Homo sapiens: one gene and its partners. The protein of the gene in region 4 interacts with the protein of the main gene of each other region in a pairwise test. Each region holds a gene or a part of one and is shown on either strand. Other genes may lie near its edges.

Region 1 (3,500 bases), on a different chromosome or scaffold from region 4:
AAAGTCTTAAGTTTTGAAGTGAAATTACTTAAAAGACTTATGTTCTAAATTTCTAAAATTTTTCATAATTTCCACAGAAGCCTCCCCCATTTGCCTATGTCTTCTAATTAACCTTGCTTTCCTCTCATTAAATAAAATTCTTTTGTATTCATTTTTATTGGTTTTACATTGTTTAATTACTAGTGTTGTTCTGTATTTCAAATTCTAAAGTTTAGTGTTAACTGCAAATACAAATAAATAAAATAAAAAATAAATATTCAATTACGGGTTAAATTGGAGTTTGTTGGCTATTCTGAAAATATTCTAATTTTTAAACACAACTTGTCTAAAATCTTAATTTTTCCTTTAATTTCTAGAATTTATGAATTATGATAAGTAAGATATGATAGAGGTAAGTTCAAAACTGTATCTTTTTCTCACAAATATCAAAAGGTCTGAGAACAAAGTCATGAAGTTTGAATATATATAAGAATAAAGATATCTGAGTACATCGGCTTAGACTAGGTTTATTATTTTTGAACTGTAAACTCCAGTAACCCCCGGTTTCTGAGAACTACTGCATTTCTTACCTTTTTTCTGCTTTATCAGCTCCTGGTGTGCCAGATTTCTCTCATTTGTTTCATTCTCTAAGGCCTTCTTATACTGTGCTGCTTCTCTGGAAAGAATGTTCAGGTTATCTTCAGCTTGTGTTCTCTCCAGCTCTAAACGATGAATTTTTTCCTGAAGAGTTTTTAAGGCTAAAATAAGAGCTGTTGAAAAAAAATTTTGTTGATATTTTAAGTGAAAGTTTCTGAACACTTACAATCAAAGTAACATAAGAAAAATAAGCAGTATATTTTTGTTACTGAGCCAGAAAAATGTACAAGTAATGCATATTCTTCAAAAAATGAAAAATAATGACTAACACTTTGAAGAGGCGCACATTTTCTCTCTAATATATCTTGTAAAAACACTATATCTATTATTGTATTTAGTGGTTTCTAAGACTGAGAAAGGTAATAACCACAATTTTAATTTAATAAAATATTTACAAATGAAAGGACTTAAAGACAATGTACAGTCTGGGGAGCATAAGAGTATAAATATGAATAAGAACATTAAAATATAATTTCTACTAATTAACATGGCAATTTAGGTTTAAAGTTATAGGCTTTTTTTCTCAGTTCTTGAGGTATTCCGTTTTAGTCAAATCACACATATTTACTGTTTCTTTGTCCATGATGCAGTATTAAGAACCAGGATAATTATAACCTAATGGTTTACCTGATGTCAGACCTGAAAGATAATAGTATTCTATACTACTGTGACTTATATTCAACTATATTAATATCTTCATGCTTCAGATAAGTTCAGAGTTTTAACTGTCATATAGTTTATATCAAATTAGAAAGATGCTTGCTAGAGATTACCATTTTGTTTTTATAAATGAGATAAATAAATTATATTTATTCCTCTTTACATGATATCTGTAGCTGGCACATTGATTTGCATTATTATTTCTTATAGTTTATTCCACAAAACTAGTTTATTTATTAACAGCAACCATTATTATAGAAGATTTTAAAAGTAGGTGATATCAGCATCTCAGAAAAGAATTTGCACAGCTTAAAATATGCCTGGAGTAATAAAATGTTTTCCTAATTCAATTTTAAGATCCTCCTACATTTCTATTTTAAACGTTAAAATACTAGTATTTTGTAGTTACTCTGATATACTGGCTTCCTAAAATATTTTCAAGAATAATTTTGGATATATGTAATTTCTGAATCTAATTCTTGAATAAGATGCAATTCCATTTAATTCACTAACATTCTAATCATCTAGTTTAGTATTCCAAATCTGACCTTTTATTCTTCAAAGAGTATTTTCCTGTTTTCAAATGATGTTTTTATGATAACTCTGTGATATGTGTCCAGCTGGTTGTATTAATCTTCATTTTATGGCTGAAGAAGCCAAAATAAAAAATGTCAAGTAATTTGTCTAAGTTCATAGAAACTTTTAGCAACAGAATCAAAGTTAGGAGTTTTGTTAAGATTAAATATGCAATCATATTGTATTCCACATAAATATGAAAAGTTTTTTATAGCATGTTTTTACCATTCTTCAAATTTTATATCAGCATTACCTTGGCTATTTGGGCTATGAAGTATCTTAGGAGAGGTAACTTCTAAGTTTGCAGGATGGCAATTCTGAGATGGTTCATTCTGGGTGAATGAGGGAACAAATACTCTTTCTGGAGGTTTATGATAGCTTCCTACTATACTATGCATTAATTCAGAATCCATTATCTGTAGAGAATAAAGGAATGATATAGTATCATGCTTTCCTATTTTAAGGGTAAATGCATTATACAAAAATTCAGGTGAAACTTTAAAAACATAATCATATACTGTGGAGTTGTATCTTTATGAACTTAATTATAAATTCAACTCTAATAGGCTTGGCAATAAAAGAAAGAAAAGTTACTATTTCTTGTGTAAGCAGTACTGACAATTCTGCCTGATTTTCAATAATCATATACCCTGGAGTAAGCATCACATGAGTGATTTGAATTTACTGGTTTCTCAGTTACCCATAAATCCCATATACCTATCATAGTCTGAGCACTTCTCTATAAGCAGTGTGACTCTAGGATTTAAAGAGAAAGTACATATTCTAAAAGATAACTGAGCTTTTAAACACAAACCAACAATATACACTGATTCTCTAATACTGATTGTTGAATTCTAATGTATGGCTTCCTAAGGGATTTTCAAGGGTAATTTTGGATATATGAAATATCGGAATTTAACCTTTGAATAAGACACACCTCTGCTTAATGTATTAGCATTTTAATCATCTAGATTAGAAAGTTTCCAAATCTGAAGAATCTAGACTACTTAGTTTTGTTAGTCTGGTTTTTATTTTGTTGTTGTTTTTGTTTTGGTAAGAGAGCCCTTTTAACCATTTAAGCAGGTAATTTTTGGTCTAAAATTTCCAAATAATTTTATTTTCCTTTCTGCAATTTAAATATTTTAGAAATGTATTCTATTTTTTAATAGATTCCAGTCAATGTTAATTAAATTAATTCATAATCACATAAGGTGATAACTGCTTACAAAAAAATAACTCACTGGAAGAATTTTAAGCAAGAAAGCTTGCTTCAAAATGGAAATCCAAGAATTACACTATAACATTAGCCTATTTTGATTTTTGAGAGTTGTACATTTTCCATGATTTCACCACCTCCTCAATTCACAAGGCAAAGGCAGGCACTTCCCAGGATAGTATTTTCTGGAAGGGCAGAAGGCACACTTCACTTCCTAGAATTTTCTACTTTAGCCATTGCCATGATTGGCAATCTCCTAGAACATTCTGATTGGTCTAAATTAGAGGCTATAAAGCCTAAGGTTTGCTAAGATACTTGATGCTTTTTGTTCTTGCAAGGTAACCATATTTTGCTATTGTGATTAGTACCAGCTATCTCAGACACTGCCTGCTCCCCATGGGATACCGCATCT
Region 2 (3,500 bases), on a different chromosome or scaffold from region 4:
TCAAAATAAATAAATAAATACATAAAGAATAAATAAATAGCTGGGTGCAGTGGCTCACGCCTATAATCCCAGCACTTTGGGAGGCTGAGGCAGGCGGATCACCGGAGGTCAGGAGTTCGATACCAGCCTGGCAAACATGGAGAAACCCCATCTCTACTAAAAATACAAAATTAGCCGGGTGTGGTGGCACGTGTCTGTAATCCCAGCTACTTGGGAGGCTGAGGCAGGAGAATCACTTGAACCCAGGAGGCAGAGGTTGCAGTGAGCTGAGATTGTGCCACTGTACTCCAGCCTGGGCGACAGAGCAAGACTCCATCTCAAAAAAAAAAAGTAAATAAATAAATACATAAATAACCATGTCACTTCCCGAGTAAAACCCTTCAACAGTGTCCTGTTGTACCTAGAATAAAACCCGAGGCCCCAGAGATCTGGCAGTGCTTGCCTCTCTCATCTCATTGCCCACCATACTCTCCCATGCCCTGTCATCTGGCTTGTCCAACATAAGGCCTTGGCGCTGGCTGCTCCTTTCCTGGGATTCCTCTACCTCCAAATCTTGACTGGCTCCTTGGTATCACCAAAATTTCAACACCAGCATCACCCTCCCAGAAGAGCCATACCTGACCATCAAAATAAATCACTTATGCAATTATTCTCTGCCACAGTACTGATTTCGTTTTTTTCATGGCACATTATACAAATCTCATTTACATCCTTGCTTATTGTTGTTCCTGTAAGAATGTAAATCTCATGAGGCAGGGACCTTGTTTGTCTTTAGCATCTTTAGTGACTAGAACAGTGTCTGACATAAAATCAGCACTCAATATATATCTGGCAACAAATCAGAGTTCTGACTGAGATGCTAGGGAGGGGCGTGTGGCATGTGGGAGGGATCCTGCTCCCTTTTTAAAAGAAAGCTCACTTTAGAGGGAACTGTGCAAACAGCAGTAAAAGCCCAGAAGGAGCCATGCTGAGGAGGGGGCGGGGATACACACGTCATTCTCGGAGGTGCCGCAGATATTGCAACATTTGCACTCGATGCACTGCCAGCGGTATGTCTTCACTGCCGCCATCATCACGGGGGTAAATTGGAGGCAAGATGGATGCCCTGTAGTGGGGGAAGTGAGTGAGACAGACAGTCGGAAATGCGGGGGGAAGAGAGGAGCTCCTGCCTGTGGCTACATCTTCTCTTGGTTAGGAAAAGCGAGGTGGGCTGGTTATGACAGCCCTAGAGGCCAGCAAGCCAAGAGCCCCTTGGGGACTGGGCAAAGCAGCAGCCTTCACGGGAAGCAGTACCTGAGCGGCCACAGTCAGAACAGGACACCAGCTCCTCGGGTTGTCCCGTCTTCTTGTTAATCTTTGAGTCCCCCAGGCAGAAGTCACAGTAGTTGTTGGGCAAGGCCAATCCATCAGGACCCTTTTTGGCTACAGAGAGAAAGAGTTTTGATGACACCCATGGGGGTCCCTGAGCCACTCAACACCCATGCAAGGAGTGGTTTTCATAACCAGGCCAACTTCTGCTTGCCCACCACTTCTGACACCTCAGCTTACATTTCTGCTCCTCAGACCTCTGGGAAACAGGAGTGGGTGGTTGAGAGTCTTCCTTGTCCTCGCCCTCCTCCTCAGCCAAGTGGGAGTGGGCATAGTGGTAACTGAGGCCTGGTCGGTTCTTGTAACGTTTTCCACAAACTGAGTGGGAAGAAGATTGCAGAGAAAGGTGTTAGGATACAAGAGTGCCATGTCCCCATCCCTGCAAGCTGTGGGGGCTCCACCTGAGGCAGAGGGCAACCATCCCTTCCCCTAGCAGCTCCACTCTGGGACAGGCCTTGAGTGACGGCCACTTCCCCTCAGCCAGGAGCATCAGGCCGTGGGGCTCTCTAGCTTCTGGGGCTCTTTTCCCTCCTGAACTCCAACCCCATGGCCACCACTGCTCTTCCATGTTGACTTTTGGGGGGCTTAGCCCTTGCCCCATCACCAGTTAGTTGCTCTGGGATATACTAACAGTCTGGGACGCTCCAGGTCAGGAAAGGGAAGGATATTCCTATATCTTTGGGGTGGCAGGAAGGGGGAAAAGTGGATAAGACTCCAAACTTTTTTACCCCTCAGTAAATGTGGGAGGCTCATGCTACCCCACACACCATGGAGCCCATCTCCCCTGAATGTGGGTAAACAAGCAGGGGATGGGTTTCTTGGGGATAGCCTATCAATGAAGCCAGTTGGGCAGTTGGTCCCCAAAGAAATTCAAGCACACTCCCATGTAATTGCCCTGTCCAGGCCTGCCAATCAGCAAGGAAAGCAGATCCCCATGAGGCATTTTGTCATCTTGAGAAGTAATACCAAGAAGGGCAAGGGGGCCAGCAGGAAAGGAGTGGGGAGAGAGGATGGCAGGAGGAGGTGGTGGGGCAGTGGGGAACATGAGCTGACCACCAGCTGCCTGGTCTGGGGAGGGAGCGGAAGGGTCTGATTGTAATGGGCTCCTGATAATGCTTCTGAAGCCACCCCATGCACTGGGCCGAGCAGCTCTAGGAGCAGGTTTGTGGGAAACAAGCAGTGGTAAAGGCAGCCTTCAGGACTTTGAGGAGTAGAGCACAGCAGAAATTCCACTGCTCCTACCCCCATGCCATTCCAGAGATTTTAAAGCTAGCATCCCAGGAAATGAGAAAGGCAGGAGGAACAAGGGAAGAGGGAAAAAGGGAAAGGAAAACCACAAGTCTGAAAAGTTGAGAGAGCTACCTCTCTGGGGCGCTTTCGAGGTATGCTTTTGTTTGAAACTATCTGAAAGACAGAAAGAAAAGTCATGAGAAGAAGGCCTTGATACACTTGAGACAGGAGCAGCAGCAGCAGGAAAGCAGAGCAAACGAGAGAGAAACCCCAGCGGCGATGGTGCTCCCAGGGTGGAGGGACAGAAGTGGGGCAAGGCAGACAGAAAGAAAAAGAGAACAGACGTTGAAAAACTCAGTGTCAGACCCCTGGGGCCCTGGCTTAACTGAGGCCAGGAGACCTGCAGGCCATCTGTTGAGAGGCCAACCCTGCCTGCTGTGGCCCCCACAAGCAACCCTACCCCAGAGGATGGCAGAAATCTTTCCCAGAGCATGCAGGTCCCACCCGTCATATAGCAGGGACCCAGGCCTCCCAGGGGTCTCAGACGGAAGCAGTCAGCAGGCAGGACAAGAGCCCAGGTTTGTTTTAATACTCTGGGCAAAAACACAACCCTCCCTCCTCTCATATCCAGAGCAGGAGCTGGGTCCAAGGCAAGGTCTACCCACCCACTTGTGAGGCACTCACTGTCACAGGCATAGGGCTTATCCCGGTCCTCCAGGATGGAAGCATCCAGCTTCTTACGGGCACTGCCCACACCCTTACCCTGCCAAGAAGAGCAAAGAGACACCCTTATTTTGGTAGCTGGGCCTGAGGAGTTAGACTCTTTTGGAAGTGGCCGCTAATCTCACTTGAAATAAAATAAGGAATTCCCTAGGCCACCCTGTCCCAAGATGCAGGCAGCA
Region 3 (3,500 bases), about 26 Mb from region 4:
CCAGCTACTTGGGAGGCTGAGGCAGGAGAATCGCTTGAACCTGGGAGGCAGAGGTTGCAGTGAGCCGAGATCGTGCCACTGCACTCCAGCCTGGGCAACAGGGACTCTGTCTCATAAAAAACAAAAAACAAAAAAAGAATGAGGTTTGTACAAGCTACAACATGGATAAACCTCAAAAACATGCTAAGTGAAATAAGACAGCCACAAAATGACACATATTTGACAATTCTAGTTACAAAATATGTCCTGAATAGGCAAATCCATAGAAACAAAGGAGAACAGAGGCTATCTGAGGCCAAAGAATTGTGAGTTTCATTTCGGGGTGAGGAAAATGTTCTGGAATTAGATAGTGGCAATGGCTGCACAACTTTGTGAATATACTAAAAACCACTGAATTGGACACTTTAAAAGCACACATTTTATGGTATGTGAATCATATCTCAACAACAAGAAAAAAAATAGTAAAACAAAAAAAAATGGATGAAGGCAGAGCCTGCACTCCCTGGAACTCCATTTGGAAGGTGCAAGTAGAATGGAAGAACTGGAAGGCCGGACACGATGGCTCACACCTGGAATCCCAGCACTTTGGGAGACCGAGGCGGGCGGATCACCTGAGGTCAGGAGTTCAAGATCAGCCTGGCCAACATGGAAACCCCACCTCTACTAAAAATACAAAAAATGAGCTGGATGTGGTAGCAGGCGCTTGTAATCTCAGCTACTTGGGAGGCTGAGGCAGGAGAATCCCTTGAACCTGGGAGGCGGAGGTTGTAGTGAGGCCGAGATGGCGCCAGTACACTCCAGCCTGGGTGATAGAGTGAGACTCTGTCTCAAAAAAAAAAAAAAAAAAAAAAGAACATGGAAGAACTGGAGAAAATGTGTCAGGAGATGGCAGCACAGGCAGAAAGTCATGAGCCTTCCTTGGTCCTCCCTTCCATCTCTAAACTCTGGGCATTCACCAGGCAAGTTCCCATCAACTGTCTCCATACCTTCTGAATGGATTCAGCTCCCATTCACATCACCAGCTGGAACCTCACGCCTGAACCCTGCTCTCATACCCAAATGAAATTGTGAAGCAAGTTGTCAGCTGGAAACAGTTTTCTACAGGCCCTGCTTACCTGCTCATTCCCATGAGTAATCAAAATTGAAAGTAACACATTTCTTTCCCAGTTATTCCTTGGTTTAAATTTTTTTCTCAGACCAGGAAGTTTCAAGTCATTCCCTTCTTCTGTTTCCTTGATCTCTTATATATACAACTTCATCATATACAACGTCATCAAGTCTAACCATCCATTTTGTGGAAGTACTTCCAGAGCTTTTTCTTCTATTTGCACAACTCACAGCTGCTTTAACACATTCCTGGACCCTGTTAACAGGTTCAGCCGCAGCACACCCAGCACGGTGCCTAACATGAAACAGAGCCTCATTAAAATGAAGTTTGTCATTTGACATGTCCTGCACACAGTGGTGTGCTGGTACATGTTTAATAGCCAGCTCTCGGGGGAGGTGGACCCCTGTTTGTAGCATTTGCCTATTCCTATGCTGTAAATATTCCTCCCAGAGCTGATTTCAAACTACCAAAGTGACATTAACGAGGGCACAAAACTCCTGAAAATTTTACAATTGAAATTTTGAGTTTTCACGAGCTCCAGCACAACTACTGCCTCTTCCCCGAATATGACTTTTATCAACACACTCTTCCTCAGTGGTTCCCTGCCATCCACTTCATCAAGTCCAAATCCATCCACACATATTTGAATGTCTTCCTGAATCTGGCCGCCTCCTATCACCTATGATTCCTTAGATGTAACCTATGTTTCTGACTAGGAATCTACCAACTGTGGCCTGAATAGGTTCTGATCACTTTGTTCATCTTTTTTCCTGCCGAGAATTTATGGTGGAAAGGACAAGACAGCTCTCAGGGACCTCTTTTATAAGGCCACTAACTCCATGTAAGAGGGTTTCATCTTCATGACCTCATCATCTCCCAGAGGCCTCACCTCTTAATATCACATGGATGATTAGGTTTCAACATACACATTTTGGGGAGACACAAACATTCAGACCATAGGTATTGGTTAGCTGTTGGAGCTGCATTTAACTCCCTAACTAGATTCAAATCCCTTGAAAGCAGGAAACCCCATACTTGTGTGACCCAGACAATGCTGAGCAAAAGGTGGAGACACAGTGGTGCTGACAATGTCAGTCCGCTGCTCCAAAGACGGAGAAACTTTCCACTAGGAAAAGACGTGCAAAACCTCTGGCTCAGCAAGGCAGGCTCCACACACATCCCTACTTTCTCCAACCCTAAGGGACTAAGACAGGTAGTACTCCAACACAAGCAAAGGACAGGAAAAGGACCAATAAACCCAAAGGTTCAGGGTGGGTGGCAGTGTGATGACTGATTTGGCAGAGTGGTGCCAATGTAAAAGGGACCGGTCTGCCCCTCAGAGCCTGGAGAGACCTAGGAACTGATGGAACCAGGAATTAGAGCTATCTGGTGGGGCTGAATAAAGGAGGTCAGGTCAAATGTTCCCCACCCCGTCCACTGCCCCTATGTGTCCAGATGGCCTCAGCAATCACGAGGTCTCCTTTCTGGGAAAATGGAACCAAAGAGGCCCTTGACTTGGGGGCAGGCTGGAGCAGACAGCAGGAAGGTGGTATACTGGTAACGCGGCTATGAAAAGGAATCTCAATACCAGACAGTGAGAACCTCTGTCCTGCTGCCCAGCTTGGCTCCCAGAATGCCGGTCCCTTGGCACACACACGGGGCAGAAAGAGGAGGACTCAATGGACCCTGAGGAAACACCTACATACTCTAATGTGTGCAGGCTGTCTTTGACCACACTGCAACCTGCCCCACCAAGCACCTGGAGCTCCCAATCAGCTTTGTGATGTCTCTTTTAAATCTTAGTGGTCAAAGATCACCAGCCATTTGAGGAAACCCTCTGTGAAAGAGGTGGCCTCCTGCCTCCCAGCAGCTGCCCTCCCTTCCTTCACAGTAATAGGACTTTTTTTTTTTTTTTTTTTGGCCAGGAACACGTACAACCAGAATTTAGATATTTGCTAGGCTTCTTTGCAGCTAGGCAAAGCCTGGAGAACAGGTTCTGGAAAACATAATTCAGTAGAAGCATCATATGACAAGGACCTTCCTTAACAGAGCTGTACATGCCTTCAGCCTTTCTTCCCTTCTGCTGCTAGAACTCAGAGACCCTCATCTTGGACTACAAGGCCAGAGTCTCACCCCAGAAATGAGAACTGGGTATCTGAAAATATCTGCAGCAGAGTCACCAACTGGCCCTAGCTTGCATGCCTCTACTCTAGCCTTTTACATGAGTGAGAAATAAACCATCTTTAGGTCATTGACAAACTTAGTGCAAAAGGACACAGTCCCCAATATGTAGAAAAACCAAACAGAAAAAGAATGAGATTAAATTATAATCGACAGTCTAAATATATAAAATAATATACACATGAAACAAGAACAGAATGCTAGGGAGGGG
Region 4 (3,500 bases):
AAGAAAAGTTTATTTACTCTGAAAAACAGGCACAAAATCTCAACAGCAGAAGTTAAGGGCATAAACAGGAGCAGTGAGGTAAAACAGCGGACATGTTCAGCAGAGTAAGGAAATAATAGGGAAACAGCTGAAAGAATTTTAGATAAGCAACTTGATTGGGGTCTAGTACGACATGTGCACGGATACTAAACAAATGGAAAGGGTCAACCTAACTGAAGGGAAAAGGAAGGAACTCTCCATGCTAGGACACACACAGAGCTCTTCATTCTGAGTGCCAAAGCAGCTACAACTTGGCTCAACAATTGAACTTTACTTCCCTACTAATTCTATCTGATTCTGCCTTACTCACCTGAGCAGTCATCTCTTAAGACTTCTCTAGTCTTAGTTTCCAGATCAAAGACCTGTAGATCCTGTTCCAGCTGGGAGATCCCATCAGGCTTGGAAATTGGAAATCCTGCTCATAGAGAAGGAAATGGGATGTGGCAATGTATCCCCAGGTCCTACATCTGCCACTTTTTCTTTTAACTAATGATTAAGAGAGACAGAAGGTCGATTCTGAGAAGACATTAATTAGGAAGGTCTGGAGAGTGAAGAGGGCAAAGATCTACAAGGAGCTCAGATTTGTGCTCTAGAGGGATGTGTGTTAAGGGGCAAGTTGATGACTTGGGAGCAGAAGGATTCATTTAAATATTATTCAGACAACAGAATGTGTGCATGGGTTTGTCTTCACAGAAGTTATCATTATCACTCTCCATCTGTTACCTAAAGATTAATCTTCGGATTAGATCTGGTCTACAAGTATCAAAATGGAGGTCATCAAAATGTAATTCTGCTGGACTGGAGAAAGGTGAAACTCAAGCACCTGCTGCATGGTTAGCTAACCTGTAGCAAGAGAATCAGTGAAAACTGAATAAATATTCTAAGGACCAATCTCAAGAAACAATTTGTTTCAGTACACATAAGAAAACAAAGAGTAATATGACACATTCTTACCCATTAGGAGTGTAGCATTTATTCAACAAACATTTATGAAGTGCCTCCTCTATGCAAAGTATGCAGGGGATAAGAGGCCAAGAAGGTCCCTTCCCTCAAGGACCTCACACTCTACACAGAGACAGCTCTAAACAACTAACTACAATAAAATATAGAGAGGGAAGTGCAATCAGTGCATCTTCACATAAAACAGTCTTTCTATGGCTTGCATAATGCAATGCTTGGATATAAATCTCTTTTAAAGCTAAAGCAACAGGCAGTCTGCTTCCAAGGAGACAGAATTTTAATACTATTAGTATCAAAGGGCAGTTTTTAAATGTGTCCAGCCCAGAAAGCTTCTAATAGCACACATACAAGGTCTGGCTCAAGCCCCTCATCTCCAAAAACCTTTCTCTCCATTTACTGAATGTGTACAAAATTTATTAGTTGTTCCCTCTTATCCTGACATGTCACATATAACGGTGTTTACATAGATTTTTTTTTAAGTGGTTTCAGGTATTGTCATTCATACTTGATTTATAAACTCTTTGATAGAAGGGACCAGGTATCTTGTATCTTGCAATTCTTTTGATTAATTTACTTAACGGCTACTTATTGAGTGCCAACTCTGTGCGCCCAAGTATCAATGTATTAACAGCTACCCAATTTTATAAAAAGGGCATTGGGGCTGGAAAATATGAAGAACTGACAGCTGCCCCAAAGATTCCATGTGAGAGCCTATGAGCAAGGAGATCAGAATAGATAGAAGAAAGGTATTTACTGTGTTTCTGAAATCCTGTGGGACATTTAGAGTCAACTCTCCTTGTGGACATATATTTAATTAAGGTCCACCCTGTCAAATGAAATCGTTTCAGAAGTTTAAAAAGTAAAGTTAGTGTAACATGAAGCAGCAATCAATATTGTTCTCAGAATTCCAATAACATAATTTGCAACTTTTAACTCTGAGATATTTAAAGTGTCTGTCGATATTTGGTAACTGAAATAAATTCTGGCTGCTTACTCCATATCTACACTTAAAACACATATGCACAACAAAAAAGGTGGTCTTCATGTGGGATGAGGGGTTTGATTTTAGATGTGTGTTTAATGTAATGTACGAAGGTATAAGAGAAAATGCCCAGCAGATGAGTACGCAAAGGCATACAGAGTGATAAAATGGACTTCAGAGACTAAGAAGGGAAAGGGTGGGAGAAGGGACAAGGGATAAAAAACTATATATTAGGTACAATGTACACTATTCCAGTGACAGGTGCACTAAAATCTCAGAATTCACCACTATGTATTAGAATTCATCCATGTAACAAAAAACCACTTGTACGCCCCCAAAACTACTGAAATAATTTTTTTTAAAAGAGAAAATGCCTAGCAGGTAAAGATACAATATCACAGTTTAGAAGAGAGAACAGGGTATCATCAGTACCATCAAAATATTATTAAGTTTTACTAAGTACTTGGTAGGTGCAAAGTACCATGCCAAGAGCTCTCTAGGTTTTCACTCATTTAATACCATAAATTTAAAACGTAGAAACTATTATTATAGCCATTTTACAGATGGGAATACTAAGATTCAGAGTGGTTAAGTAGCTTGCCCAAGGTTACAATAACTGGTAATGCTTAGTTTTCAAACCTGCACAGTCTTATTTCAGAACCTAGCCTTTAAACAATCTGCTAGTAAAAAAAAAATTATGATTTTGCCTCCTAACAAGCCCTGAAAAAAAATAAATAATGACTGTGAACAAAATCCATCCCTTCCTCCAAATTACACACAGAAAGAACGTGTAAGTTTTCTTGGCACTAGCCTAAATGCCTATTTCCTAAATTTAACTCAAAACTTTGCTTTCAAAATATGCACTTGCTTTATTTACATTTTTCCTGTTTAAAATTAATGTATTAAAACTTTTTGATTTTATTTAAATCTTGAGTTTTCTAATATGATTTATAAAATATTGACAGTGAAGTAAAAGGTAAATACAAACAACAGAGAAAAAGTGATTAGAATAACATACGGTGAACCAGGATCCTAAATAATTGGAGTCGCAGAAGTGTTAATTAAAAGGGATCTATGGCTGGGCACAGAAGCTCACACCTGTAATCCCAGCACTTTGGGAGGCCATGACGGACAGATCACTTCAGCCCAAGAGTCTGAGACCAGCCTGGGCAACATAGTGAGATCCCACCTCTACAAAAAATACAAAAATTAGCCAGGCATGGTGGCACACGCCTGTAGTCCCAGCTACTTGGGAGGCAGAGGCAGAATGATCGCTTGAGCTCAGAAGGCCGAGGCTGCAGAGAGCCAAGATCACACCACTGTACTCCAGCCTGGGTGAGAGTGAGATCCTGTCAGTCAGTCAGTCAGTCAATCAACCAACAAACGAATCAAGAGGATCTATGGACCAGGCATGGTGGCTCACACGTGTAATCCCAGCACTTTGAGAGGTCAAGGCAGGAGGATCTCATGAGCTCAGGAATTTGAGACCTGCTTGGGGAACATAGTGAGACTCCATCTC

Evidence for each region.
Region 1: the proteins of ZNF655 (region 4) and CEP57L1 interact in binary tests that used the Homo sapiens proteins (3 or more experiments, as listed by UniProt).
Region 2: the proteins of ZNF655 (region 4) and DPF2 interact in binary tests that used the Homo sapiens proteins (3 or more experiments, as listed by UniProt).
Region 3: the proteins of ZNF655 (region 4) and FKBP6 interact in binary tests that used the Homo sapiens proteins (3 or more experiments, as listed by UniProt).

Annotation. Positions count from the first base shown.
Region 1 is NC_000006.12:109,144,007-109,147,506, reverse strand, and holds part of CEP57L1 (centrosomal protein CEP57L1), read right to left. Parts: intron 2,289-3,500; 5' UTR 2,286-2,288; coding exon 2,126-2,285; intron 750-2,125; coding exon 570-749; intron 1-569. UniProt on the Homo sapiens protein: Centrosomal protein which may be required for microtubule attachment to centrosomes.
Region 2 is NC_000011.10:65,343,852-65,347,351, reverse strand, and holds part of DPF2 (zinc finger protein ubi-d4), read right to left. Parts: intron 3,362-3,500; coding exon 3,283-3,361; intron 2,773-3,282; coding exon of another isoform or gene 2,731-2,772; intron 1,687-2,730; coding exon 1,549-1,686; intron 1,423-1,548; coding exon 1,294-1,422; intron 1,106-1,293; coding exon 993-1,105; intron 1-992. UniProt on the Homo sapiens protein: Plays an active role in transcriptional regulation by binding modified histones H3 and H4. Is a negative regulator of myeloid differentiation of hematopoietic progenitor cells. Might also have a role in the development and maturation of lymphoid cells.
Region 3 is NC_000007.14:73,334,661-73,338,160, reverse strand, and holds part of FKBP6 (inactive peptidyl-prolyl cis-trans isomerase FKBP6), read right to left. Parts: intron 1-3,500. UniProt on the Homo sapiens protein: Has an essential role in spermatogenesis. It is required to repress transposable elements and prevent their mobilization, which is essential for the germline integrity.
Region 4 is NC_000007.14:99,568,642-99,572,141, reverse strand, and holds part of ZNF655 (zinc finger protein 655), read right to left. Parts: intron 455-3,500; coding exon of another isoform or gene 350-454; intron 1-349. UniProt on the Homo sapiens protein: Probable transcription factor.